Homo sapiens: one gene and its partners. The protein of the gene in region 2 interacts with the protein of the main gene of each other region in a pairwise test. Each region holds a gene or a part of one and is shown on either strand. Other genes may lie near its edges. The genes, in order: ARL13B, WFDC2, PANX1 and ANXA2.

Region 1 (7,249 bases), on a different chromosome or scaffold from region 2:
TATATATATATATGCAAATATTCCAAAATCAAAAAAAAATTAAAAATTTGAGAAATTTTAGGTCCCAAGCATTTCAGCTAAGAGATACTCAAACTGGGCCAGGCACGGTGGCTCATGCCTGTAATCTCAGCACTTTGGGATGCCAACGCAGGTGGATCACTTGAGGTCAGGAATTTGAGACCAGCCTGGCCCACATGGTGAAACTCCATCTCTACTAAAAATACAAAAAAAATTAGCCAGGCTTGGTGGCGCCCACCTGCAATCCCAGCTACTCAGAAGGCTGAGACAGGAGAATCACTTGAACCCAGGAGGTGGAGGTTGCCGTGAGCTGAGATCGTGCCATTGCACTCCAGCCTGGGCGACAGAGGGAGACTTCGTCTCAAACAAAACAAAACAAAACAAAACAAAAAAAAGAGATACTCAAACTGTATTATCAAATAATTAATGATGTAACCTTTCCAGAAGTTGAAAGTGAGCCGCTTACTCCTAATATTATAGTCATCCCTGGGTCTTTGATTACTAGAAAGGCTGAGATACAAAGGACTCTGTAGTATTATAAGATTTACAGTATGTTATACTAGTAATAAGTAACATAAGAGGTATTATGGGTACTCTGAAATGTAGCCACAAATTTGGTGTTAGAGACCTGAGTTCAAGTGCCAGATTTGCCATTTCTAAGCTATATGGCACATTACTTTTCAGAATTTCATGAATGAAATAGGATAATAACAATAGCTACTCTAAAGGGATATAATGAAAATTAAATAAGGTTTCAATGAGCTGGGATCATGCCACTGCAGTCTAGCCTGGGTTGACAGCATGAGGCTGTTTAAAAAAAAAAAAAAAAATTAACCATAGCATTTTTCTGCTTAAAATCCTTATAGAGAATCAAGTCTCAATTTGGCAGCCCCCACTTCTGCCACTCCCAGGAAGCCTGCCATGCCGAGGATTCCTTCCATGCCGAGTACTCCTTCAGCCCTTCACAACCATCCCCGGCTACTTTTTATACAGGCTCCTCTACCAGAACTTCTCTTTATCAGCTCTGTAGTGCCTGTATCAAATGTGTTGGGCACACAGTAGGCTTCTTTACTGAAAGAAACAACAAACATTTTCTGAACCCCATTTGCTGAGTAAATACTAAGTAAAATTAAAATACATAACTTTAGATTGAGAAAGTACTATAATGAAGCTAATTTATATAAATCTTCACATCAAAATAGTTCATATTAAAGAATGTAATTATATCCATATATATCAAATTGGCTGAAGTTTTCTGAAAAAGCTTACATGCTCATGGTTTCAAGGTACTAATTAACAGAAAGACTTTCAAAACTGAAATAGGGGTCTCAGCAGCTCGGGCAGCGGGAGGAGTGCCAGTAGCCAGGCAGCCCAGCTTCGCGAAGGCTCTCAGCTCCGTGGCCCACAGGTGCCCAGCAAGTGCCCCTCCTGCCGCCAAGATGCCCAAGAGGAAGGTCAGTTCAGCCGAAGGGGTGGCGAAGCAAGAGCCCAAGAGGAGATCTGCGCACTTGTCAGCTAAACCTGCTCCTGCAAAAGTGGAAATGAAGCCAAAGAGGCATCAGGAAAGGCTAAATCTTCAGATTAAAAAAAAAAAAAAAATGCAAACAAATGGGAAAAGGGGAGCATAGGGAAAACAGGCCAAAGTGGCTAACCAAGAAACTAAATAAGATTTACCTGCAGAAAACGAAGAAACTAAAACCGAGGAGACTCCAACCTTTGATGAAGCAGGAGAGAAAGAAGCCAAGTCTGATTAATATCATATACCATGTCTTATCAGTAGTCCCTGTCTCCCTTCTTGTACAATCCAGGGTATTTTTATCAACTGCTTTGTAAGTGCAAGTCTTTTAGTAGCTCTAGAAACATTTTAAGTAGCAGGAACTCCCACCTCATTCCATTGTTAAGTTTTTTCTGAGGTGAAATAATTCTCTGGTTGTTTATTTTTTGGTGAAACCAGAGAATAGTATGGGATATTGAATTACAGGAAGTTTTGACTGTCTTGGATGTCAGCTTAACATTCCACAGATGGGGGCTTAGTTTTTATATACTGTAATACAAAATATACTAAATGGCAATACAGAGTCAGAATCCTGCATTTAATGTCTTGAACATTTTAAATTACTTCTATTGCCATGTTTTTTTTTTTTTTTCACAGAATTGTTTCCTAAAGAAAACCACTCCTTGATCATGGCTCTCCCTGTCAGAACTGTGTACACTATAACATCTTTGGTCACAGAAGTCCTGATTTCCTAATAACTGTGTTAATGTGCTGTGAAAGATTGAAAATTTGGGTATATAGTGTACATGCTATTAAACTGTGAATTGGTAGAACGTGTACAGCTTATCAAACACTTGTAGATACTGGCTCTTGATAATCCTCTTAAGAAAAATTTGCCTCCAAATGTTAAGTTGGAATGTCACTATAATAACTATTTAAAAAAGAGGCCGGGTGCAGTGGTTCACACCTATAATCACAGCACTTTGGGTGGCCAAGGTGGGAGAATTACTTGAGCCCAGGAGATTGAGACATGCCTGGTCAACATGGTGAGACCTTGTCTCTACAAATTAAAAAAAAAAATTAGCCAGGCATCGTGGCATGCACCTCCCAGTTACTTGGGAGGCTGAAGTGGGAGGATCGGTTGAGCCCGGGCAGTCAAGGCTGCAGTGAGCCGTGATCACTCCTCTGCACTCCAGCCTAGGCAATAGAGAGAGACCGTTTCAGAAAAAGGAATTACAATAGAGGTTTTCTAGATTTTTGGTATGTATGTTAAGAATTGTGTACAATTTGAAATGTCTGTATACTTATTCTCAACACGACAAATAAAATCTCCATTACAAAAGAAAAAACTGAAATAATTCTTAGTAAAAACAAAAAAAAATCAAAGGTAGAGATTAAGGGATCCAAAGGTCTGTTTTACATCACTTTAGCTATCTGCCGAAACAAGTGAAGACTTCCATACTCCAGAAGCTAATAATTAATATTGTTCAAGTCAACACAATGTATATAATAGATCTCCTAAGTGAGAATATGAGAATATCTTATCTCAGAATTCCTTTTTATATAACGGATATACAAATTAATATATCAGAAATACTGGTCAGGCACAATGGCTTATGCCTGTAATCCCAGTACTTTGGGAGGCCAAGACAGGAGGACTGTTTGAGCCCAGGAGTTTGAGACCAACCTGGGCAATATGGTGAGATCCTGTCTCTATTTAAAAAAAAAAAAAATCAGAAATATAAGCATCATGGCATTAGGGAGGATTGAACTTAGAAAACATTTAAATTCTGAATCTTTCCTGAATGACATTATCACAATCATTTGAACACCTACAAGTCTAAACTTCCTCATCTTTTAACTAAGGAAGACAATACTTTCAATATGATAATTAGATAAAAGCTATTCCTTTTTTTTTAGAGACGGAGTCTCATTCTGTCACCCAGGCTGGAGTGTGCAGTGGCGAGATCTCCACTCACTGCAACCTCTGCCTCCTGGGTGCAAGCAATTCTCCTGCCTCAGCCTCCCAAGTAGCTGGGATTACAGGAGTCTGCCACCATGCCTGGCTAATTTTTTGTATTTTTAGTAGAGACAGGGTTTCACTATGTTGGCCAGGCTCATCTCGAACTCCTGACCTCAACTGATCCATCCACCACGGCCACCCAAAGTGCAGGGATTACAGGTGCGAGCCATCATGCCTGGCCCATAAAAGCTGTTTCTAACTTCAAAAATATTATGCAAGTCAAAGAAAACATTTCGCTAAAAACACTAAAATCAAAGTTTGACACATCGGAACTCTATTATCTACAGTATTTAAAACTACATGAAGCAAATTCTAAATTTTAACATAAACATAAATTCTAAAAGTAACAAATACATATACAAAAAAAGACTTTAGAACAAGGTTTTATGATACATATGTGAGAATTTTAAAAAATCACTATACGACAAATTGATAGAAAGAAAAAAATGTATCGAAAAAACAGTGTGATTTTATTGCAGTACACTATTTTCTGACATTTCAATTCAGATCTAGAACCCCATATTACAGCAAAATCATTATCTAAATTTACTGAGTATGAATAAATAGTGAGAAGGCCAAGCTTGGGTTTATAGCCTGCTTTTAAGCCCTGATCAAGTCAAATTCTTAGTGTCCATTTTTTCATCTCTAAAATATAAGGGGGTAAAATAAGAATGTCTCTAGGTCCTTTTCTATATTAAAATTCTAAAATTCTTACTATGCATAATCAAGAAGAACTAGGGGGATAAAAAGAGATGTAAAATATTCCAGTTCAGCATACAGCACAATAGATAATCCTTGCTAATCTGTACATACAGCTTAATTGGAAAATTAAGAACTCAGCAATTTCTATAAATGGTCTAGATTTACAGTTATATTTATTTAGGCCAAGAATGATGGTATTAGGGAGCTAAGTATTCCCTCAGTGAAAAAGTTCATAGCAAAGAGGACAAAACAGACCACTAGAAACATTGTGTACTGTATCTTATTTTAGACTTGGCCACAGCAAACAATTTACTAATAAATTTGAAGTAAAGCTTTGATAGGTTGTATTTGTGATGCTGAAAAAACACAGATGGACAAGAAATCAGTTCCAATTAAAGGTTAACTCTGTGGAAGAATGGTGGGAGATGAATAGGGGGCAGGAAGTTTCAAGGATTTGTTACCTACTTATTAAAATAAAATTGAAATATGATGACTAAAGATTAATATTTATAAAACCTGGCAGGCATATGGTACTTATTATATCTTTCTTTTTGGTTAAATAACAGTAAAAACATTTTTGTTAGTTATGTATGCATAATATATAAGAAGTTATATAACATGTATATTTTCATATAAACAAAGAATTTTGTTGCCAAAATTTGTATGCAAAATTTGTTGCATGAATTTCTTCAAGACCCAGGTAAAATTACACCCCTTCTAAAATCCTCTTTCCTGATTCTCATTAAAAATCTTAAAAATCATATTTCAACTCTTGCATATTCGATCATTATATTTTACATGCACTATTTCATCACCTAGATGCTATGTTATAAATAACAGGAGCTCAAAATCTGTAGATGAGAATGTGTAAGGGTTAGAATCTGCTATAAGGCCCAGAGATTTACTGAGCATCATAGCTTCACAGACCTTGTGTCCTGTACTCAGGATGAAGGCTGCTCCCTATAAGCTAAATAGATTGCAATAGATTAACAGTTTTTAATGTTAAAAATGAAAATATAAAACTACAAGAAAAAAGTATATGTGAATGTAATCTTGTAATGCTGATGAACTTTCTAAACATTACACTGAAACAGTAATATATTTGAATTTAAAATTTTTATTTAGTCTTATTGATTGATTGATTGATTGATTGATTGAGACAGGGTTTCACTTTGTCACCCAGGCTAGGCTGCAGTGGGGCAACCTGGGCTTACTGCAGCCTCCACCTCTTGGGCTCAAGCGATCCTCCTGCCTCAGCCCCCCAAGTAGCTCGGACTACAGGCACATGCCACTACTTCTGGCTAATTTTTTAAAACATTTTTGTACGGATGGGGTCTCACTATATTGCCCAGGCTGATCTCAAACTCCTAGGCTCAAGCGATCTTCCCAAGTGCTAGGATTACAGGTGTGAGCCACCACACCCAGCCTGAATTCAAACATTTTAAATGTTTATATTTAAAAAGCACAAAAAGTTGAAAATATAACAAATGGAAAGAAAATACTTGCAATATTATACAACTGATCCTTGAACAACACACGTTTGAACTGCACAGTTCTACTTACACACAAATTTGTTTTTAATGAAAGTTACACGTGTGCCTTCCTCTCCTGCCTCCTCTGCCTCCCCAGCCTCCATTTCCACCTCTTCTGCCTCTGAAACCTTCCTGAGACAGTAAGACCAACCCCTCTTCCTCTTTCTCCTCAGCCTACTCAATGGGAAGAAGATGAGGATGGAGACTTTTATGATGATCCACTTCCACTTAATAAATAGTCAATGTATTTTTTTCTTCTTTTTAATTTTTTTTTTTTTAGACAAGAGTCTTGCTCTGTCGCCCAGGCTGGAGTGCAGTGGCATGATCTCAGCTCACTGCAACCTCTGTCTCCCAGGTTCAAGTGATTCTCCTGCCTCAGCCTCCCAAGTAGCTGGTATTGCAGGTGCCCACCACCACACCCAGCTAATTTCTGTATTTTTAGTAGAGACAGGGTTTCGCCATGTTGGCCAGGCTGGTCTTGAACTTTTGACCTCAAGTGATCTGCCCACCTCAGCCTCCCAAAGTGCTGGGACTACAGGCGTGAGCCACCGTGCTCCGCCCCTTATGACTTTCTTAACATTTCCTTTCCTCTAACTTTAAGAATACAATAAATTATACATATAACATAAAAAATATGTGGTAACTGACTATTCATGTTATCAGTAAGGCTTCTAGTCAACAGGAGGCTATTAGTAATTAAGTTTTTTGGAAGTCAAAAGTTATATGTGGATTTCTGTCTGTGCTGGCAAGGCAGGGTTCAGTGCTCCTAAACCCTGCGTTGTTCAAGTGTCAATTGTACTACAGAGAAACAGTAGCTACGACAAACACTTAAAATTTCTTTTTAAAAATTCATTAAGAAAACACACCTGCCCCAATAGAAAAAACACAACAGTAATCAATGGACAACTGCTGAGAGAAACAAAAATGCGCAAGGAAAAAAAGTTAATCTTCCTAGTAATAAAAACAAAACAAAACAAAAAAAACCCCAGAAACTCAAAGCAGAAAGCAGGTTCCCCTATAATGTGAAGGAGATGAAAAACCGATGACTCTTGATTTTCTCAGTGAAAAAGGCACTCCAACGTACTGTTGGTAGGAGTAGAAACTGTGTTTTCTCTTTTTTAATCCTTTCTGAGGAGCAATTTGGTAACATATTTTTAAAAGATAAACTTAGGAACAATAAAATTTCAAGAGTTTATTTCCACATTCATTGATTCATGAATGGAGCCGTACCAAACTGAACCAAAATTCATGAATGGGGCCATACCAAACCCCAAATAAGTGGGGTTCAGTACTCCACTAAGGGGGATGAAGCGTTAAACTTTTATAAGATCTTGACTGCTGACCTAGACTGGTGCCTTAACACTTGATCTCTGACTCCTGCCTTGTCCTTATCACACAAATCTAATCCCTGATTCCAATGTCTGGAATAATATGCTCACTAGGAAAGGATCTAAGTGAGGAGAGGTGAACAAATACAAT
Region 2 (7,787 bases):
GGATGTGGAGAAATAGGAATGCTTTTACACTGTTCGTGGGAGTGTAAATTAGTTCAACCATTGTGGAAGAGAGTGTGGCCATTCCTCAAGGATCTAGAACAAGAAATACCATTTGACCCAGCAATCCCATTACTGGGTATATACCCAAAGGATTATAAATCATTCTACAATAAAGACACATGCACACATAGGTTTATTGCAGCACTGTTCACAATAGCAAAGACTTGGAACCAACGCAAATGCCCAAGACACATGCACACATAGGTTTATTGCAGCACTGTTCACAATAGCAAAGACTTGGAACCAACCCAAATGCCCATCAGTGATGGACTGGATAAAGGAAATGTGGCACGTCTACACCATGGAATACTATGCAGCCATAACAAATGATGAGTTCATGTCCTTTGCAGAGACATGGATGAAGCTGGAAACCATCATTCTCAGCAAACTAACACAAGAACAGAAAACCAAATACCGCATGTTCTCACTCATAAGTAGGAGTTGAACAATGAGAACACATGGACACAGGGAGGGGAACATCACACACCAGGGCCTGTCGGGGGGTTGGGAATTAGGGGAGGCATAGCATTAGGAGAAACACCTAATGTAGATGACGGGTTGATGGGTGAAGCAAACCACCATGGCACATGTATACCTATGTAACAAACCTGCACGTTCTGCACGTGTACCCCAGAACTTAAAGCATAAATACAAAAAAAAATGTTGTTAAGTTGCCAACAGTCTTGACTTCCTAATACAAAGAAATTCATTCTCTTGAAAGGAGTAGGAACCTGTAATATTGGGCTGCCCTGGAAATAAATAGGGAACCATTTATGATCAAAACAAGCCACTGTGTATGGAGTATCTTCTCACTAATAGACACTTTAGATGCATTATTTCATTTAGTCCTCATGCCAATCCTATAGAGTTTGGAATTATTCCCATCTTAGAGCAGAGGCTCAGAGAGGTAAACAACATGCTCAGGATCACATAACTAGAAAATGGCAGAACTAGGATTCAAACCTCCAGGCTGCCTCCCTGGCTCAGGAGGCCATCTGACCTTGTCCCTCTTCCTGCCTCAGTCTGTCCATCTGAGATAAGGGAACAAATTCTTCATCCATCAAACAGCAAAGACTCCCTCCTTTGCTCCTCCACCTCTCTCATCTGGCTGCTGCCTGCTTTCTCTCCAAATCTTCCTCTCTCCTTCTGGTCCTCCTCTCCCTGGCCCAGAGGAGGGGACTCATGACCTTGAAGCTGCCCTTGGTGGGCTGCCAGTCCCCCTCCACTTACCACCTCCCTGCTGATCGGTGTCTTGGGTCACCGTATTACAAACCTTCCCAGCCTGTGCTGGCATCTTCAAGGAAATAACAGAGAGGAAAAGTCACAGGGGCTGTATTCTGGATAAAGAACATCATTACAGTACCTTGGTTCTCTCCAGGTCCTATCCCTGCCTCTAATCCTCAGCATTTTCCTCTGGAGAACGGAAAGCTGAGATTCCATGCTGTTTAAGCCACCCCCTGTTCTGATAGCCTGGTGGAGACTGCAGCTCCAGCAAGCACCTTTGAGAGAGTCCCCAGCTCGCGCTCACTCAATCCTTAGAGTGGAAGAGATTGACTGAAAGACGACGAAGGGCGATACAGTGTCCAGGGAGGATTCCTCACTTTCTTCGAATCACTCAGCCAGTTGGCCTGAAAGGCAAAAGCTGAACCCTCACTATGACTCCAGCAGCCATGGGATGGCGGTGTGACCTTGGGCAAGAACATTTTTTTCTCACCGATGCTCCCTTACACATCTTTAAGATGAGCGGGGCATTTTCCTAAATCTGTAAAGTTCCTTTCCGCCTGGACAGAGGAATTGGGGAAAATCTTGCCAGGCCAGGCTCTCCCAGTCTTTCCCCAGGGCTGGGGGAGGCCCCCAGGGAGGGACTCCAAGAGGAGAGGTGAGCGCCCCAGGCTCCGGGCTTTCCCGCAGGGCAGGCTTCGGCCGGTTCGAGAAGGAAACTGCGGCCCCGGGTCCCCAGGCCGCGGGGAACAATGTCCCGGCTGTGCGTGCCCGGAAGCCCGTCATGCACCAGAGACTCGAATCCCAGCTAGGGGTGGGGACCCCCCCTTGGCTGCGTTTCAACGACGCCTTTGTCTACCCCTGGGCCGTGCGAGGGAGAGGACTGACGGATCTGGTTTCAACCGCCTTGACTTTCCCGGGGGTCCCCGGGTCCGGGGGCGCCCCTGTTCCCGGAACCCGGGCCCTCCCACCTCCTCCCAGCCCAGCGCGGCCCCGCCCCGTTCCCGCTCGGCCGCCGTGGGGTTACCATTGGGCAGAGAGCAGAAGGTGGCACAGCCCGCGCTGCAGCACTTGAGGTTGTCGGCGCATTCGCTGTCCGAGACGCACTCTTGCGTGCAGTTCTGGTCAGCCTGGAGCTCGGGGCACACGCCAGTCTTCTCTGCTCCTGTGCCTGGGAGGGGAGGCCCGGGACAGTCGAGGGTGGGGCGTAGCGCCAGCCCCAGAGGATGCCCACCTCCTGCTCCAAACCTTAACCCCAAGGAATTCTCAGTCTCTGGCCCTAGGAGTCCCCTTACAGCCCCCAGAGACTCCTTCTTCCAGACCAGGAGTCCCTGACCCCTGGGAGTACGAGAGCTCCCTAACCCTTGGCGTCGGGGCCCTCAGATCTCAGCCCTAGGGGACGCCGCACAGCTGAGCGTCTCGGAGCTTCCGAGGTCGAGGCAGAGCAGCCCCCACCCCCAGCCCACTGCAGCCACGGAGTGTCCGCGTTCAGCACAGAATCCTCCCAAATTGCAGCCATCAGTGGTCTCTCCACCTCCAGCACATTGGACCCCACACCCTAGGCTCCAAGGGTCCCCGCCACTTCCGCCCCCGGAATTCCCACTTCCCCAGCCTCCAGAGGCTACGCCTCCGCCTGGCTCCATCCTGGCGCTCGTGGCTCGGCCCCTCTAGGCGCCGGGCCTCTCCCCGCCCCACTCACCTGAGACTAGGGTGAAGCCGAACAGCAGCAGGCTGAGGAGGAGGGCGGCGGCTAGCGGGCCTAGGCGACAAGCAGGCATGGTGCTATGCCCGGGCGGGGTGCAGGTGTGAGCCGATGCTCAGGTGCGGGGATTTAACCGCGCGCGCGGGAGGGGGCGTGGGGTAGGGGTGGAGCCGAGCGGGGAAGGGGAGGGTGGAGGGCTTTGCGGGCACCGCGGGCGGGCTGCCACATGAGGTCATTTCACAATCCCCCAGGATCAGGTATCACTCTTGGCCCCGGTGGGAACCAGGAACTTAAGCAGCTTCCAGGACGGGACCAGCTACGGCCGGACCCTTGTCCACGCCTCCCTCCTGACCTCCCTCCTGGGGCCTGAGGGCCAAGGCTCAGGGCTCCTGGGTTTCTATTCCAAGACTCCGAGGTTTCTCCAGAGTGTCCCCAGTGGGCGGTTGAGGAGGATAAGGCAGGGCCCGCAGGGAGGCAGTAGAGCATGCGGGTTAAAGGGTTCGATTTGGGGTCAGCCAGATGAGAGGGCAGATCCCTCTTGATGGAGGGCTAGGGTAGTGATACAGAGCACATAGTAGGGGCTACAGAAATAGCACTTATTATTAATAAACAAACCCTCCTCATCAGAAACAGGCCCAGGAAGGTGAAGCACCTAGCAGTCTCAAGCCGTTTGGGTGTGTGTTTCTGTCTCCCTCTCTTTGTCCTACCGGCCCCTGATCAGGGCTGACTGTGCCAGGCTCTGTGCTCCTTGTCTCAAGGAATTGTCGCCGGTCCTCTGACCGGGGAGTTACTGTTATCAGCTGTATATGACAAAGGAACTGAGTGTTTAGGGATTTAGGACCGCACCTCCACCACAAGGTCCCCTGCAAAGCTGTACAAATAAGGTTTTGAACCCAGGTCTCTCCCTCCAGGCCCTTGTTTTTTCCATTCCGTCGTAAATATTCACTGGGTGCCTACTGTGTGACATATGCAGGGCAAGACGCTTGGTGAAGAGAAAGTCGTCAAAAGGGGCCCTCCAGCACTGGTCTTGAAGGGGTGACAGGGTCTGGGGTCTGACTCCCACCTCCACCACTTCCCACCTGAGGGCCCTGGAATGAATCCTTTCCTGGATCTGAGCTGCCACATCATCAGTGAAAATGACACCTATATGGGACTTCAGTGAGAACACAAATGCAACGTTCCTGCCACGGAACAACCATGTACTCACTGGGAGCATTGAGAGTAGATCCACACTGATTGACACAGGGACTCCAGGCCTGACCCATGATAGGTACTGGATACATGGCCATGAGTGCTCCACAGATAAGTGTCTCCTGTGACGAAGGAGACCAATAAGTATAAATGAAGCTTTAGAATCCAGGGGGTTAAGTGCCAAAACAGAGTTACCCAGGGAGTTAGACAAGAAGTGCTTCCTGCTCCAATGATCTGAGGTTCTAGAAGCCCCAGGAGGTCTTTGCTGCTGGAGGCTAGAGGGGCCCTGGGGCAGTGAACACTGGGATGATAGTGACAGGTGAGTAGGGTTTGGTGATGTGAGTACATCTGGCCACTGTCCCCAAAATGGATGCTGAGAACACCTCCCCCAGCTTCTCATGCTCAACTTGGGGACTGGGGACGTTATTGGGAGGGGCCAGGGCTATTTACTCTGAGCTCAGTCAACAATGAGGGCAGGAGCCAGGTGGGAACACAGCCCATAACAGGCTAGTGAAACCCAGTCTAGGGCACAAAGAGAACACTGGGGTGAGCAGCCAGTTTTTAGCCCGTGGACCCAGCTGGCTACTGTACATTCAGCCCCAGGCACTGCTGCCAACAGCTTTCTTCCGGGCCCTATTCAGCTCCCTGGGCCAGGAAACTGCCCAGCCTTGCTCCTCCCAGGCCCTTATGAGCACCCTATTGATTGGCTCTCTCTTACAGGAATACAGACTGAGGGAGAGTGGCAGGGCCAGGCAGAAGGATGGGGAAGGAATTTTCATCAGTCAATGGCATCAGATGTTTAGCTTTTGTGGTGCCAAGTTCCGTGCTAGGTATAGTTATAGATATTCTCTTTACATCATTTAAAAGGGCAGAGGCTTTAGAACCAAATGCATCCATGCCCAATCAGGGACAATGCATCCATGGCCACTTTCTGGCTATGTGACTTAGAGAAACACTTCATGTTTTGGGCCTGCATCTTCTTCCTGCATAAACTGTGTATCATCCTAACAGTCTTGGATGATTATTATAAGGGTTTTATAAGATTATTATAAGGGTTAAAGGAAAAAGCATAAATCAGAGGTTGCAAATCTGGCTAGAGCACATACATTATTAACTACACAGTATGTTTTAAATTTTTAAATTAGTTGCCAAGATTTAAAAGTAGCGAATTTCATATAAAAATAAACCTCTAGCTTCTCTTGGAAAAAGTAAAAGATCTGGCAACACAGTCCTGCAATCTTAGATATAACAACCATCAGCTAGAGCAGCAGGTCTCAAAATTGAGCATGCGTCAGAATCATTTTTTTTGTTGTTTTTGTTTTTTTGAGACTGAGTTTTGCTCTGTCCCCCAGGCTTCCCTCCCCTCCCCTCCCCTCCCATCTCCTCCCCTTCCCTTCCCTTCCCCTGCCTCCTGGGTTCAAGCGATTCTCCTGCCTCAGTCTCCCAAGTAGCTGCGATTACAGGCGCCACTACACCCGGCTAATTTTTGTATTTTTAGTAGGGACGGGGTTTCACCATGTTGGCCAGGTTGGTCTCGAACTCCTGACCTCAGGTGATCTGCCCGCCTTGGCCTCTCAAAGTGCTGGGATTACAGGTGTGAGCCACAGTGCCCAGCCTAAGCATGCATCAGAATCACTTGGAAGGCTTATTAAAATACAGATTGCAGGATCCCCATCCCCAGAGTTTTGATTAGTAGGTCTGGAACCTGAGAATTTGCATTTCTAACAGGTTTCCAGGTGATGCCAATGCTGCAGGGCTAGGGACCATACTTTGAAAACCAGAACCTAAGTACAGCTACTCTTTTTCTATGAGGGAAGCATTCCCTCCAGTTTCCCATAATCCCCACCACCACCATCCTCCCTCTCTGCAACTAGTTCCATTCACAGTGCTCACCTGACCCCAGGAGGACATTTAAATTTGTGACCTCTGGAGTGGGCACATAGTAAGTGTTTGGTGAAAGATAGCTTATATGTATTTAGCAATCTTATGGATTAAGTATTATTACTCCCATTTTACACGTTAAGAAACTGAGATTCAGCTAAGCAAAGTGACTTGCTGGAGGAAACACAGCCAGTAAATCAGAGGGAAGACTCTTGCCAAATTACTTGTGTTGTCCCAGTTATTTCAATATTATACACATTCACACAGATCTATCTGAGGTTAACGTAGATGATGCATCCAAAGTTTTGGACTTGACTTCATGAGTGTAAAAAAATATATATCAGGGAAGAGGAGGAAGAAAAGAAGCAGAAAGGAAAGAAGGAAAAGTTTATAGTGGTAGATGATGTCAATTAGCTGTAGACATGCCCACTCTAAAATGACTGTAAACAAGTTAACGGTGAAGATTTAAGAAGTTTCCAGGAACAAAAAAGGTGCCTTTAACCATGCAATGGGCCTCTCCTTTTAGACTTTTGGACTCAGTCAAACTTCCTTTCATTCCATGGAAACCTCTCTCTTTGGATATATTGACTATTTTGTTTTGTCACCTAGCATTCATTTGTCCTTTTTCTGATAAATCACCCTGAGTTTGCTTTGGAGGAAATAACTTCCTCCAGACCAAGACAGGTGGGGCCAGGGAGACTGTCAATTAATGTGTCTGCCCTACCCCCAGGCAGAGTGGCCAATCAAATACTGTTCCTAGAACTGTAATCTTGAGCAATGAATGATAAAAGACCTGAAAATTTATGGAGCTAACTCAGAGGTGTCCTGGGAAGAACTCAGTTCTGACTTTACCATTCTTTCCAAGCTGTGTTCTTTTAGCCTTTCCTTCAGTTCTGAGAGCTAAACTGAATCAATTAGTGCTATTGGGTGCAAGCAGTAAAATTCAACTCTGGCTAACTTAGAGATATTATTAGGAAAGGAGAATGGATGCCGACTACATCCCATTTTTATAAATTTCTTCTCTGTTTACAACAGCCAGAGTTGGTTTCTGTTGCTAGTAACCAAAGAGATCTTACTCCCTATACCAGTGTAACCACCAAGTTCCTCATTTCCAAATCCAGTGGACTTCTCTCAGCTCTCATTCTCTTCTAACTCACAGTTAAGATCCTTGTGGCATACATGCAATAATGTTCAAACCAAATCCTCATTAAAAAAAAAAAATACACATGGTCTCTGCACAAAAACCCATGAAAAGCAGAGCTTGTCTATTTGAAGTGGCTCAGGTCCAGCCCTAAACCAAATAATCTTCCTAGAACAGTGCACTTGTCGAGTTAATTCCTTGACTGTAAATTCTACTGGATCTTCACTGCCTTCAGGATAAAGGCTGAACTCCTTAGCCTGCCTTTTTGACTGATACCAACTTTTATTTCCAGCTACATTACTTACTTCATGCTGCACAAACCTTCCCTGGGCTCATTGTCTCATCAAACATTCCTTGATCAAGCTCACCCCAAGAGTCTTCTTTATCAACAGCTGAGACTTGAATGATGTGTAACATCTATCTACAACATCATCTGGGGCTGAGCATTACCAAAAAAGGTTAAAGCAAGTCCAAAGATCCTAAGGCAGGAAGAAGCCTGATGAATGCCAAGAAGAGTAAGAGAACCAGTATAGCTGGAGCAGAGTTAAAATCAAGGGAGATGAAATCAAAGAGCTAGGCAAGAACAAGATC
Region 3 (7,249 bases), on a different chromosome or scaffold from region 2:
TCTGGGACACATTCAAAGCAGTGTATAGAGGGAAATTTAGAGCACTAAATGCCCACAAGAGAAAGCAGGAAAGATCTAAAATTGACACGCTAACATCACAATTAAAAGAACTAGAGAAGCAAGAGCAAACACATTCAAAAGCAAGCAGAAGGCAAGAAATAACTAACATCAGGGCAGAACTGAAGGAAATAGAGACACAAAAAAACCCTTCAAACAACCAATAAATCCAGGAGCTGGTTTTCTGAAAAGATCAACAAAATTGATAGACCGCTAGCAAGACTAATAAAGAAAAGAGAGAAGAATCAAATAGACGCAATAAAAAATGATAAAGGGGATATCACCACTGATCCCACAGAAATACAAACTACCATCTGAGAATACTATAAACACCTCGAAGAAATGGATAAATTCCTCGACACATACACCCTCCCAAGACTAAAACCAGGAAGAAGTTGAATCTCTGAATAGACCAATAACAGGCTCTGAAATTGAGGCAAAAATTAATAGCTTACCAACCAAAAAAAGTCCAGGACCAGATGGATTCACAGCCGAATTCTACCAGAGGTACAAGGAGGAGCTGTTACCATTCCTTCTGAAACTATTCCAATCAATAGAAAAAGAGGGAATCCTCCCTAACTCATTTTATGAGGCCAGCATCATCCTGATACCAAAGCCTGGCAGAGACACAACAACAAAAAAAAAGAACTTTAGACCAATATCCCTGATGAACATCGACGCAAAAATCCTCAATAAAATACTGGCAAACCGAATCCAGCAGCACATCAAAAAGCTTATCCACCATGATCAAGTGGGCTTCAACCCTGGGATGCAAGGCTGGTTCAACATACGCAAATCAATAAATGTAATCCAGCATATAAACAGAACCAATGACAAAAACCGTATGATTATCTCAACAGATGCAGAAAAGGCCTTTGACAAAATTCAACAACCCTTCATGCTAGAAACTCTCAATAAATTACGTATTGATGGCACGTATCTCAAAATAATAAGAGCTATCTATGACAAACCCACAGCTGATATCATACTGAATGGGCAAAAACTGGAAGCATTCCCTTTGAAAACTGGCACAAGACAGGGATGCCCTCTCTCACCACTCCTATTCAACATAGTGTTGGAAGTTCTGGCCAGGGCAATCAGGCAGGAGAGGGAAATAAAGGGCATTCAATCAGGAAAAGAGGAAGTCAAATTGTCCCTGTTTGCAGATGACATGATTGTATATTTAGAAAACCCCATTGTCTCAGCCCAAAATCTCCTTAAGCTTATAAGCAACTTCAGCAAAGTCTCAGGATACAAAATCAATGTGCAAAAATCACAAGCATTCTTATACACCAATAACAGACAAACAGAGAGCCAAATCATGAGTGAACTCCCATTCACAATTGCTTCAAAGAGAATAAAATACCTAGGAATCCAACTTACAAGGGATGTGAAGGACCTCTTCAAGGAGAACTACAAACCACTGCTCAATGAAATTAAAGAGGACACAAACAAATGGAAGAACGTTCCATGCTCCTGGATAAGAAGAATCAATATCATGAAAATGGCCATACTGCCCAAGGTAATTTATAGATTCAATGCCATCCCCATCAAGCTACCAATGACTTTCTTCACAGAATTGGAAAAAACTACTTTAAAGTTCATATGGAACCAAAAAAGAGCCTGCATCGCCAAGTCAATCCTAAGCCAAAAGAACTAAGCTGGAGGCATCATGCTACCTGACTTCAAACTATACTACAAGGCTACTAGCAGTAACCAAAACAGCATGGTACTGCTACCAAAACAGAGATATAGATCAATGGAACAGAACAGAGCCCTCAGAAATAATGCCACATATCTACAACCATCTGATATTTGACAAACCTGACAAAAACAAGAAATGGGGAAAGGATTCCCTATTTAATAAATGGTACTGGGAAAACTGGCTAGCTATACATAGAAAGCTGAAGCTGGATCCCCCTTCCTTACACCTTATACAAAAATTAATTCAAGATGGATTAAAGACTTAAATCTTAGACCTAAAACCATAAAAACCCTAGAAGAAAACCTAGGCAATACCATTCAGGACATAGGCATGGGCAAGGACTTCATGTCTAAAACACCAAAAGCAATGGCAACAAAAGCCAAAATTGACAAATGGGATCTAAGTAAACTAAAGAGCTTCTTTCTGCACAGCAAAAGAAACTACCATCAGAGTGAACAGGCAACCTACAGAATGGGAGAAAATTTTCACAACCTACTCATCTGACAAAGGGCTAATATCCAGAATCTAAAATGAACTCAAACAAATTTACAAGAAAAAAACAAACAACCCCATCAAAAAGTGGGCGAAGGACATGAACAGACACTTCTCAAAAGAAGACATTTATGCAGCCAACAGACACATGAAAAAATGCTCATCATCAATGGCCATCAGAGAAATGCAAATCAAAACCACAATGAGATACCATCTCACACCAGTTAGAATGGCGATCATTAAAAAGTCAGGAAACAACAGGTGCGGGAGAGGAGGTGGAGGAATAGGAACACTTTTACACTGTTGGTGGGACTGTAAACTAGTTCAACCATTGTGGAAGTCAGTGTGGCGATTCCTCAGGGATCTAGAACTAGAAATACCATTTGACCCAGCCATCCCAGCCATCCCATTACTAGGTATATACCCAAAGGATTATAAATCATGCTGCTATAAAGACACATGTACATGTATGTTTATTGTGGCACTATTCACAATAGCAAAGACTTGGAACCAACCCAAATGTCCAACAATGATAGACTGGATTAAGAAAATGTGGCACATATACACCATGGAATACTATGCAGCCATAAAAAAGGATGAGTTCATGTCCTTTGTAGGGACATGGATGAAGCTGGAAACCATCATTCTCAGCAAAGTATCGCAAGGACAAAAAAACCAAACACCGCATGTTCTTGCTCATAGTTGGGAATTGAACAACGACAACACATGGACACAGGAAGGGGAACATCACACACTGGGGCTTGTTTTTGGGTGGGGGGAGTGGGGAGGGATAGCATTAGGAGGTATACCTAATGTTAAATGACGAGTTAATGGGTGCAGCACACCAACATGGCACAAGTATACATATGTAACAAACCTGCATGTTGTGCACATGTACCCTAAAACTTAAAGTATAATTAAAAAAAAGGAAAAAAAAAAACGAGAAAAATAATTTTTTTTAAAAAAAGATGAATGATAATCACACCCAGAAAATCCTCCAGAAAGGATTTATTTTTACTTCTGGCAGGCAAGTAGACCAGACACTCGTAATCCCCGATCTCTGTCATTCAACTGCTATTGCAATGATTTAAATCAGGACTCTTGTCCCTATGGGAGCTAGATTAATTCTGGATCGCCCCTTATTCTCAAGGAACAGCCTTTCAGAGTCCCAACCAAATGCCAAGGAGTGTTAATAAGGGTCCTTCCAACGTGGCAGGTCCTGACTTCAATTTCTGTCCCCAGCCTTGTGAATCTGGCAAGAGCTCTGCTGAGAAACTTAGATAAACCTCCATTCAAACAAGCAGTCTTCCACTGCCAGAAAGAGGGTTTCTTAATCTCTCATTAATACCAGGTAACTTAAGGTTTGGCTACCTATACTGTTTCCAGATTTCCCCTTCCTTGACTAGAAGAGCAATGGGCTAGAAGTCTGAAGATCTGAGCTCTGATGTGTTGGTCAGTAACTGGTCCTATAACCTTTAGGCTAGATCCCTCAAAGTTCCCTTACCCTTAAATGTAAAATACATCTGGATAAAAAATCTTTCAGTTTATTCTTGCTCTAAAATAATTACTAACACCCCTGCCAACTCTTAGACAATTCTCCTGCGGATCCATCAAAGGCAGCCCAGTGACTCATTAAAACTCTCTATTTTCATGAGAACACTATAACAAACGAACTTAAACTACAACAGTAAAAATTTGGATTTACAAAGCAAGCTGTTAAACTTTAGAACTGTGGTCATTCACACTGCAAGTCCTATTATTTGTTGCCTTGGCTACTAAACCATGCAAAGCTGACGAGAACCCACCTATGGCTGAAAATAAAGAGAAAAGCCCAACCTAAAAGGAGAAAAGAGTCACTATAGGGCACCACTATGCAAAATGGCAAGCAGTACAGTTGACGCTTGAACAACATGAATTTGAACTACATGGGCCCACTTTTATGGGGCTTTTCTTCTGCCTCTACCGCTCCTGATACAGCATGAACAACCTCTCCTCTTCCTCCTCCTCCTGAGCTACTCAACATAAAGACAACGAGGATGAAGACCTTTATGATGTTCCACTTCCACTTAATAAATATTAGGTTGGAGCAAAAGTAATTGCGCGTTTTGCCATTACTTTTATATATTTATTTTATTATTATTATTTTTTGGAGTCTCACTCTGTTGCCCATGCTGGAGTGCAGTGGTGTGATCTCTGCTCTCTTCAACCTCTACCTCCCGCATTCAAGTGATTCTCCTGCCTCAGCCTCCCGAGTAACTGAGACTACAGGCATGCACCAGCATGCCTGGCTTTTTTTTTTTTTTTTTGAGATGGAGTTCCACTCTTGTTCCCCAGGCTGGAGTGCAATGGCACGATGTCAGCTCACTGCAACTTCCACCTCCTGGGCTCAAGCGATTCTCCTGCCTTAGCCTCCCGAGTAGCTGGGATTACAGGCACCCGTACCACACCCAGCTAATTTTTGTATTTTTAGTGGAGATGGGGTTTCACCATGTTGGCCAGGCTGGTCTCGAACTCCTGACCTCAAGTGATCCGCTTGCCTCGGCCTCCCAAAGTGCTGGGATTACAGGCATGAGCCACCGCACCCAGCCACGCCTGGTTAATTTTTGTATTTTTAGTAGAGACGGGGTTTTACCATGTTGGCCAGGCTGGTCTCAAACTCCTGACTTCAGGTGATCCGCCCACCTCACCCACCTTGCAATTACTTTTAATGGCAAAACCCACAATTACGTTTGCACAAACTGAATAGTAAATATATTTTCTTTTCCTTATAATATTCTTAATAACATTTTCTGTTCTCTAGCTTATTGTAAGAATACAGTATATAATACATATAGCATATAAAATATGTGTTAATTGACTGTTTATGTTATTGGTAAGGCTTCCAGTCAACAGTAGGCTATCAGTAGTTAAGTTTTGGGGAAGTCAAATGTTACACACAAATTTTTGACTGTGCAGGGGACCAGTGCCCCGACCCCCACATTGTTCAAGGGTCAACTATAAACAAACATGCCTGAGTCATAGCTCCCTTAAATCATTCCTTTTACGAAGAAGGATGCTGATGGTGTGTCTGGAAGCAGGTCAAAGCAGAAGAGAGTCAAACTTTGGCTTTTGGGTTTTCGAAAGCTAAAATTCTATATTTTCTTCAGCAGAAAAGAATACCAGAAGATACACATTCTAATTGTTTTCACAATGGACAAAAGAAACAGTGGTTGAAATTAATGACAGGCTGAAACAAAGTCCTACTTTCAGAAGCACAGAGAAGACCTAATGCAGTCACTTCATAACTCAGAGAACATTCTTCTGCACAAACTTATCAACTGCTGCCTAAGTTCCTCACTGCATCCCCTGCCACCTGCATGCACAAACCACCACTTCCCTGACTACAGAATGTACCTCTTCTCTATGGGAAGTGGAGTGGAACCCAGACATTGGTGTCTCTTGTGTAGTATCTCCCCTTCCCTGCAGTATCTGGATCTATCAAAAAGCAAAGGGATCCATTCCAAAAACAGTGCTACAGCCAACACCCCCAGAGGGCCTCATCACTAGGCTTTTTGATGTTCCAGTAACGTATCAGCTAGAAGCAACTGAACTCTAGGTCAGTCCTTACTTTCTGCAAGAGACCCTGTGTGTGGTAGAAAAGGTGCTAGCTGAGAAGCTATGCATGAATCCTAGCTCTGCCACTGTCTAGCTATGCTCATTCAGACACTCAAAATGTACTAAGAACCTACTACGGGCCAGACATCCTGCTGGGCATTATGATATAAAGGTGTCAAGACACAAAAGGTGCCTGCTGTTATAGAGCTAAAACTCAAAGAACACTTCCCATTGCCCCATTGTGCTAAATGATGGTGCCTACACCAAGTCATCTCTGAGGTTCTTTTTGACTATAAGGTGCTACAGTTTTACAATCTGAGATACAGCACTGGTTGGCTACAATATCTGTGTGGTCTTTGGCATAGCCTCCCTGGGCTTTAGTTTCCTTATCTATAAAGCAAACAGGTTCTATTTGGAAATGTCTCCCTTTACCTTATGCAGCCACAGTGGGAGGTTTCCAGACTCGCTCTGCAGTGAGTTCTTCTGCTGAACAGCCGCCCAGCAATATGAATCCACAAAGGCAGCCTGACGCCAGGAGAAAGAACTTGGAGAGAAACAGCTTATCTGTGTACCTAAGAAGCAAAACAGATAGTTTCCAATGAAAACACAGCTTACCTGGACTCTTGTCCCCATCTCACATGTTTTTAGTTTTGTCTAAGTTAGGGAGCACCAGGACAGGAGGTGGAGACATTAGGACAGAACTAAAAACAAACACCCAAGTTCATATTAAAACAAAAGATCACAGAGTGGTTTTGGCCAACACTGGTCATGATAGCAGCTTGGCCTCAGTTGGGGAAAAATTCTTAAAAGAAGTAGAACTACCATACAAAGAAAAAGGAAGCAGGAAAAGAACCAGAGCCCAGAATTCAAGAGGCAAGCGTGGAGAGACCTGGTTTAGTTTGGAGTAAGGATTGAGAAAAAGGAAAGGTTATGTGGGAGGGTCAGTGAGGCACCTGAATGCGGAAAATTGGACTAAAAAAACAAGTTCTTTTAGAACAAAGAAGCAAAGAACTATTAGCCTGAGGAAGAGAAAGCTGAAGGGAACATTGGTAATAGAACACTGGATGGGAAATCAGTGGTTTCCTACCTCCTGTAACACTAAAGAAGAAACAGGCTGAAACTGCAGCCCAACTGGTTTACATTTGGAAGGGAAACGCTCACGACTGCAAACCTCCCAACAGCAGATGGGCGGTAGATGGGGAATGGGAAGACCTGGGTCCTGGTGGGGCTCTACCGTTCACTCGCTCTTCTGGGAAGGGACTCTGGGACTTGGTTTTCTCCTCTGCAAACTGAAGATTACATCTCTCTGCAGATGCTACCGTCACATCTGTAAAACCTACCATCTGGAAGACTCTTTGTGCTCCTGACACACACAGGCCATGGAGGGAAACTGACCAATAG
Region 4 (7,249 bases), on a different chromosome or scaffold from region 2:
CAGGGGAACATGGGCATTCTTTGTATTTTCTATTCAACTTTGCCATGAACCTAAAACTTTCCTAAAAATGAAGACAATCGGCCGGGTGCGGTGGCTCACACCTGTAATCCCAGCACTGTGGGAGGCCGAGGCAGGCAGATCACGAGGTCAGGAGATAGAGACCAGCCTGGCCAACATGGTGAAACCCCATCTCTACTAAAAATACAAAAATTAGCTGGGCGTGGGGGCGGGCGCCTGTAATCCCAACTACTCGGGAGGCTGAGACAGGAGAATAGCTTGAAACCAGAAGGCAGAGGTAGCAGTGAGCCAAGATCACACCACTGCACTCCAGCCTGGGCAACAAGAGCAAAACTCCGTCTCAAAAAAAAAAAAAGACAATTTAGAATAGTCTTGCTCTGTAGCAGAACCGTCCAATACAGTAGCCACCAGCCTCATGTGGCTACAAAGCATCTGAAATGTGGTCAGTTCAAACTGAGATGTGCTATAAGTGTAAAGGACATTCTGAATTTTGAAGACATAGTATGAAAAAATTATATAAAATTTCTCATTTATAATTTCTTTCTTGGTAAAGGCAGGGTCTTGCTATGTTGCCCAGGCTGGTCTCGAACTCCTAGCCTCAAGTGATCCAAGCACTGAGATTACGGGCATAAACCACTGTGTCCAGCCCAATAATTTATATATTGATCATATATTACAATTACAACTATGATATGTTGAATATATCTTATTTCCATTTAATTTCCTTTTTCCTTTTTCCATTTTTTTTCCTTTTTTTTTTAATGTTTCAGTAGAGACAAGGTCCCACTGTGTTGCCCAGGCTGGTCTTGAATTCCTGGGCTCAAGCAATCCCTCCGCCTTAGCCTACCAAAGCACTGAGATTACAGGGGTTAGCCACCACACCTAGACCTTTTTTTTTTTTTTTTTTGTCTGAGACAGGGTTTCTCTCTCTGTTACCCAGGCTGGAGTGCAGTGGTGCAATCATAGCTCACTGCAGCCTTGATCTCCAGGACTCAAGAGATCCTCCTGCCTCAGCCTCCCAAGTAGCTGGGACTACAGGCGTGTGCCACTACACCTGGCTTTTTTTTTTCCAGTAGAGATAATGTCGCGTTACCTTGCCCAGGCTGACAGTCTTCTTGACAGAGCAAGAAATCTCTAACTTCAACATGGACCAAGAAACATTCTAGAGGGTCTCATCAGTATCCCTCAGCCCGAGAATTACCGAAGCAGAGGTGAAACTCCTAGGATGGACATCAAACCACCCAAGCCCTGGCCTTAACTATCACCCCTGGACTCAGTCAGAACTGGACCAGGTCTGCAGCAGGGGATAAACTGTTGTCATCTGCTGTGCAGAATTCTAGTCTCTACCATAAACAGGCAAGAAATAAAAAATGCCAAACGTAAAACAAAAGCAAAACCAGGGAACTAGCAAGTCAGAGTTGCAAACAGAGTTGTTTCCACTTAGAGAGTATAGATTAAATTCCACTTGTTTATGAAATCAGACACCTCACATTGGTTCCGATGTTTAGAAAATCTCAACTAGAGGCACGGTAACTTTTCATTGTGTTGTTCTTTCAAGTTGTCTTTCCAGCTCTGAGCTTTGTAGACTGCTGCCTACCCGTGTCCCACATGGGACTCCCCAGTACTGTGCAGATCAAAGACAATCTGATAGGCTTCTTTACACTCTCCATTCATGTTAATTCTTCTCCCACAGCCACAACACCTTGAGGAGACTGTTAAAAGCCCCACAAATCTTCCTTTCGGTTTCACCATTCATAACTGTGCTGCTCTTTCATCAAATCAGTCCTGCATGCCACCACCAACTAAATCTCCCCATTTAATCTTGTCAAAATCATTTGACATCATTCAAAATCAGTCCTCCAGCAGAGCCCAGCCTTCAAAGATGAGCATCAGAATCCTGTAAACAGTAAACAGTTCCCTCTGTTTACTCCTCAGCTACAGTTGACTAGGGCCAAAATGTGACTTGCCTCTCCGCACTCACCACTACTTCAGTATCTGCTCCAACAGGGTCACCACGACCCCTACTCTACAGAACTCTATCTTGCCTTTCACTGCCAGGGCACTTTTTGATACCACTTCATTCATCCATTCGGCAGAATGTTTTAAGTGCCCTACACGTGCCAAGTATTCAAATGGTGAATGCATAGGTACAATTCAAAGCAGTAGAAAGTATATGGTTGACCTCATCTTCCCTACATAGTCCCAGTCCCCCTACAGATTTCAGATTATCTTTACATAATGCAGGTGCTAAATCAACTTGAAAACAATGAGTTGCTATTTTGCATAACATTTATACTATGTATAACCATTTTGCAGAAAAAAAAAACAAAACACAAACATCACAATAACCACAAAGTCACACTTACCACAAAGCAGTATCTATGAAATTTGACATTATCCCATGCAGGTGCCTTTTGTATCCATATAAATATTTCCTACTTCATGTGAGTTTAATGGCAAACATTTTCACCCTAGAAATAAAATATGGCCACTTTCCTCCCATGCCGATAGCATTCCGGAAAACATGGTGAACATTCCTAAAACCCACTGGGCTTTCTGTAAGAAGTGTGGCAAGCACCAACCCCACAAAACGGCACAATACCAGGACTCCCTGTATGCCCAGGGAAAGCGGCGTTATGACAAGAAGCAGAGTGACTATGGTGGGTAGACTAAGGCAATTTTCTGGAAAACGGGTAAAATTACAAAGGAGGTTGTGCTGAGGCTTGAGTGTGCTGACCCCATCTGCAGATCTAAGAAAATGCTGGCTGTTAAGACATGCAAACATTTTCAACTGGGAGGAGATAACAAAAGAAAGGGCCAAGTGATCCAGTTCTAAGCATCATCTTTTGTTTTATTATGAGGACAATAAAATCTTGAGGTTATGTCCAAAAAACAAAACAAAATAAAAAGAAATAAAATACAGTGCTTGCTTCTTCACTCCATCAAATCCCCTAGCAATGCAAAGTCATTTTGCATATGATCTATTATTCGCTGGAAGGAACAGTTGGCTTTGCGATTCACTGTTTGTTAAAACATTAGTTTAATATAGCATATTTGACTAATGAGAATGTGTCAGTGTGCTGCTATCCTTGAAAGCAGGAAAAGGAAGTCTTGGCAGTGCTACTGTAGGTTACAAACACTGGTAATACGCAAGGAATTAATCAACGAACCCATACCAAGCATACGCTGAGCCTGCACTATATTAAAGGATACAAAAGACACTTATAAAACTGTGAAATGCAGACTTCCACCCTGCAGGACCTTTGAGCTCTCTTCCCTTCGTGCCTCTGTGACACACTGAGAGTCTAGTCCAGGGTCACCCAGTGAATTAAGTAGCTGAGGCAGGGCCAAAACCCAGATCCCCAGACTCCTGGGCCAATGCCCTTTCAACCTCACCACAATGGTTCTTTATTCCAAGTGATTAAGACACAGAGAGAAAGATCACAGCCATCAGAGCGGGATTAGTTAAGGGCTTAACAGGGAGGTGCTGTCTGCCTAGGCTGAGAAGGGTGAATCACCATGGGAGGTTCCAGCCAAGAAGCAAGGGGGAAGGCCTGGGGAGAGGGGAAGAGGAATAATGCCCCAGGGTGGCAGAAGAACAAGACTACAGGCTGGAAAATGAGCCACGTCCAGTGGGGTGCCCTGTGGGGAACCTAAAATATAAGTCTCTGAATGGTGCAAAGTTAAGCTTGCCTATGGAAATACTGGGGAACCTATGAGCCAAAATGATTGGGACTCAGTACTCATATTTATCTATTCACCAAAACATTTGCTCTGGAGGCAGAATTTTCTTACTGAAAACAACTACTCTGACTTCAGTGTACTTACTGTTTTGAATGAAAATAAAAAATAAAGCCTACATGCTGTATGAGACAATTTCACCTCTACTCACTCCTCATCACCGTATAAAACTCATAAATCCATTAAAAACAGAACCACTACTCCTTTTCTGGCAGACTTCTCTAAAGAACATGAAAATGGCAGTTTGCACCACTCTTTCCAACACTTCAACCTCACCCAGCTTGCCGACTGGTTTCAACTCTCCAACAAGAAAAAAAAAAAAAAATCAGCAAATTCAATCTGTTGATGAGTACATCTACATACACATCAGTGCCGTGCCTTCCATTCCCAGGGAGGGCAGGGTCACTAGACAACATCATTAAAATGACCCTTTATCAGAGAACGTTTTTCTGTTTAAGGAAATAAACTAGAGGTACAGGGAGACTCACTGATAAGAGCCATACCCACCTCAAACTGGTTTAAAATCATTCACTACTTGGGTAGGAAAACAGGTCACTTGGCCCCACCCTAATGAAAAGAACAGTTTCTTCTGCCTTGAAAAGGCTGATAAATGAGACTGTGAATGCCTGGCTAAAAAAGCTCACAGTGCAAGGCTGATCATTAATGAAATCAGTGCAGTTATTGAGAAACAAGTCATTTACATTTAACATAAGGACTATATTATTTAGGTTGGTGCAAAAATAACTGCCATTACTTTTAATGGCAAAAACCACAATTAACTTTTGTACCAACCTAATAATTTAAGGGTTTGTCCTTATTAAAAAAAAAAAAACTCTATAGATTTTATTGTATTCTATTGCTTCACTACGAAAGTGCAGTTACAAACAAAAAAAGGACAAGTGAAGCAGTTTTAACTTTACTCCCAAAAAGAAGAGTAAAAGTTTACAAAAAGGTTAAAACAAACAAACAAAAGAAAACTTAAAAGTCAACACTTCAAATAGTAAAAACACATTCTACTGAACTAAATTAAGAACCAGTTCCAAAAAGCCCAAATGTTAATCTGAACAAACAAAAACATACTGCAACAGGGCTGGTCTGCACAGGCAAATCTGAGTCTAATCCAGAAGTTTTGTGGACACACCCACTTCACAGTTTAAACGTGGAGTGTTGATGCGTTACCGCAAAACAGATTCTTAGCAACCATGGTGAATCAATCAGGGACTGGTGATTCAAATGAAGATTTTAAAGCAAAAATGGGTAGAGGTGGGAGTGTGGAGAGTTGGGTTCTCCATCAAAGCTCTTACTGTACACAGTCCTGGACACACAGTCTACAGGCCACACTGGAATTTTAAACTAAAAAAAAAAAAAAAAAAAAATGTACTGGGTGAGGAGAGGGGTTCCCACTGTACTCCATCCTCCACCCACCTACTGCATCTTTATTTATCAGAACCTTTTTGAAAGCAGATATTCTTCTCCTTGGTTTTATGGTCTTGATTAATGACTGAGTCACAGGGCCAACTCATTCCCCAGAATTCCTGGAATTCGGCCCAGTGACCTCGATCAAACTGAGCAGGAGGGACACACAGCACTTGCTCCAGCTTGTCTCTTCTGTGGCCTGATCTGAATCAATATTTGTTTGCTCCCTACTGACTTGTTGCAGCTTCATGCTCTCACAGCCTCTCTCTGCTGGTATCCTGATCTGGGGTTGGAGTGGGTGGAAAGAGACCGGCAGGAAGAATGATGTCACTTGGCATGAAGCACTTTCAGGGTTGGGAAATCCAGGCCTTCAAGTCTGCAACTCAATTTCAGTGTTTTATGGCCCACATATTGTATTTTCAACAGGGCCTGGCCGCCTACAGAAAAAAGTCTAATGTCAGCATTCAAGACCTTCCACACTGTGGACTTACCTACCTTTCCTTAAATATCTTCTATACACACACACATGCATACACGCATCCTGCACAGAAGAGTTAACTGGACTGTTAACTCTTCTCCAAACACGCTCAGCACTTTCTAAGTTCCCTCCACCAGGAACCTCAATCTTAATTAGCTGACATCTGAATGAGTCTTTAGGATACAGGAAATCATAAATGCCGCCTTTCTCACACACCCCTCCTTGCCCTGTGCTTCTGCAGCTTTTTGTGTGTCTGTGCAACATTAGAGTTACATGTGTAAAGTCTGTCTTCCGTATTATCCGCCCACAGGGTTTCCAACTTAACTCCCTCCTGTTTCCTCATAGGTCTGAGCACAGTGCCTGGCACACGATAGGCATTCAATTTCATCTTGGGATGGTTTACACACACTGGGTCTTTCTATATTAGAAAGTCTTTTTTTCTTCTTTTCCAACACACTCTCCTTCCTCAATTTTCTCTCTCCCTCAGACTGGACATTTCGAATGCAGTTCCAGTTCCGTGCATTCAGAGTTGGAGGCTTAAATCACCAACTTCTGCAAATCTTAGCAAAGCCCAGCAGGTCGCTTCAGGGCAGCCTCTTATCAACATATAGCCATGCCCCCCACCTCTGTGCTGTCAGGGATACTTGGACCCTAGCTCTGTCCATAGGACCACATGGGAACGTAACCTACAACTCCTAGCAAGAAGGCAGCAAAGAGGCAGGATGTACGAGTGGCCTTAGGACTCTGATTTCCTCTGAGCTGTGAGTGTATAGCCTGGGTGTGGCAGGGAGACAAAGGACATGGACAAAGGGCTCCATAACACAGTCACTCCCTAGAATAAGAAATTTCTACACCACACCTGGGGTAAAACTCAGGCCACTTGGGTGCTACCGACCTGTCCAGTTGAGCTCAGCTGGATTAAAAGCTTCAGGGTGGGCCAGGCATAGTGGCTCACGCCTGTAATCCCAGCAGTTTGGGAAGCCGAGACAGGCGGATCACTTGAGCTCAACAGTTCCAGACCAGCCTGGCCAACATGATGAAACCCTGTCTCTACTAAAAATACAAAGATTAGCCCGGCATGGTGGTAGGCACCTGTAATCCCAGCTACTCGGGAGGGTGAGGCTGGAGAATCACTTGAACCTGGGAGGCGGAGGCTACAGTGAGGAGAGATCGTGCGACTACACTCCAGGCTGGGTGACAGAGCCAGGCTCCATCTCAAAAGAAAAAAAAAAGAAAAAAAAAAACAGCTTCAGGGTGTACCCTAGAAGGGAGATTTGGAAGTCATCTGGTAGAACCACCCAGAAGGACAAATATGGGCATCTCCTGACCCCTACTGCTGACCTGTCCCTGGAGAAAGTAGATGAGGACTGCCTCTGGCAACAGCAGAAGAAAAAAGATACCAGGCAGTGAATGGGTGGAAAGAATTTTTTTGAAGGACTGGAATTTCCTCTGGTGTGGCCTACAACTAGAATAGGGTGTGGCACCAGGGCAAGTGAAGAGGATTCTCATGTGAAAAAAAAGAGGAACATTCCATTTCTATTTAATTCTCACAATTGAATCTGGAAGGCAGCTTAAGACACCATAATTTTAAGCAAA

What was found.
Region 1: the proteins of WFDC2 (region 2) and ARL13B interact in binary tests that used the Homo sapiens proteins (3 or more experiments, as listed by UniProt).
Region 3: the proteins of WFDC2 (region 2) and PANX1 interact in binary tests that used the Homo sapiens proteins (3 or more experiments, as listed by UniProt).
Region 4: the proteins of WFDC2 (region 2) and ANXA2 interact in binary tests that used the Homo sapiens proteins (3 or more experiments, as listed by UniProt).

The regions. Positions count from the first base shown.
Region 1 is NC_000003.12:93,983,155-93,990,403, reverse strand, and holds part of ARL13B (ADP-ribosylation factor-like protein 13B), read right to left. Parts: intron 2,459-7,249; exon of another isoform or gene 1,342-2,458; intron 1-1,341. UniProt on the Homo sapiens protein: Cilium-specific protein required to control the microtubule-based, ciliary axoneme structure. May act by maintaining the association between IFT subcomplexes A and B. Binds GTP but is not able to hydrolyze fit; the GTPase activity remains unclear.
Region 2 is NC_000020.11:45,465,054-45,472,840, reverse strand, and holds the start of WFDC2 (WAP four-disulfide core domain protein 2 precursor), read right to left. Parts: upstream 3,089-7,787; 5' UTR 3,060-3,088; coding exon 2,981-3,059; intron 2,453-2,980; coding exon 2,309-2,452; intron 1-2,308.
Region 3 is NC_000011.10:94,152,662-94,159,910, reverse strand, and holds part of PANX1 (pannexin-1), read right to left. Parts: intron 6,421-7,249; coding exon 6,281-6,420; intron 1-6,280. UniProt on the Homo sapiens protein: Ion channel involved in a variety of physiological functions such as blood pressure regulation, apoptotic cell clearance and oogenesis.
Region 4 is NC_000015.10:60,387,829-60,395,077, forward strand, and holds part of ANXA2 (annexin A2), read right to left. Parts: exon of another isoform or gene 6,549-7,249; intron 5,613-6,548; exon of another isoform or gene 2,385-5,612; intron 1-2,384. UniProt on the Homo sapiens protein: Calcium-regulated membrane-binding protein whose affinity for calcium is greatly enhanced by anionic phospholipids. It binds two calcium ions with high affinity. May be involved in heat-stress response.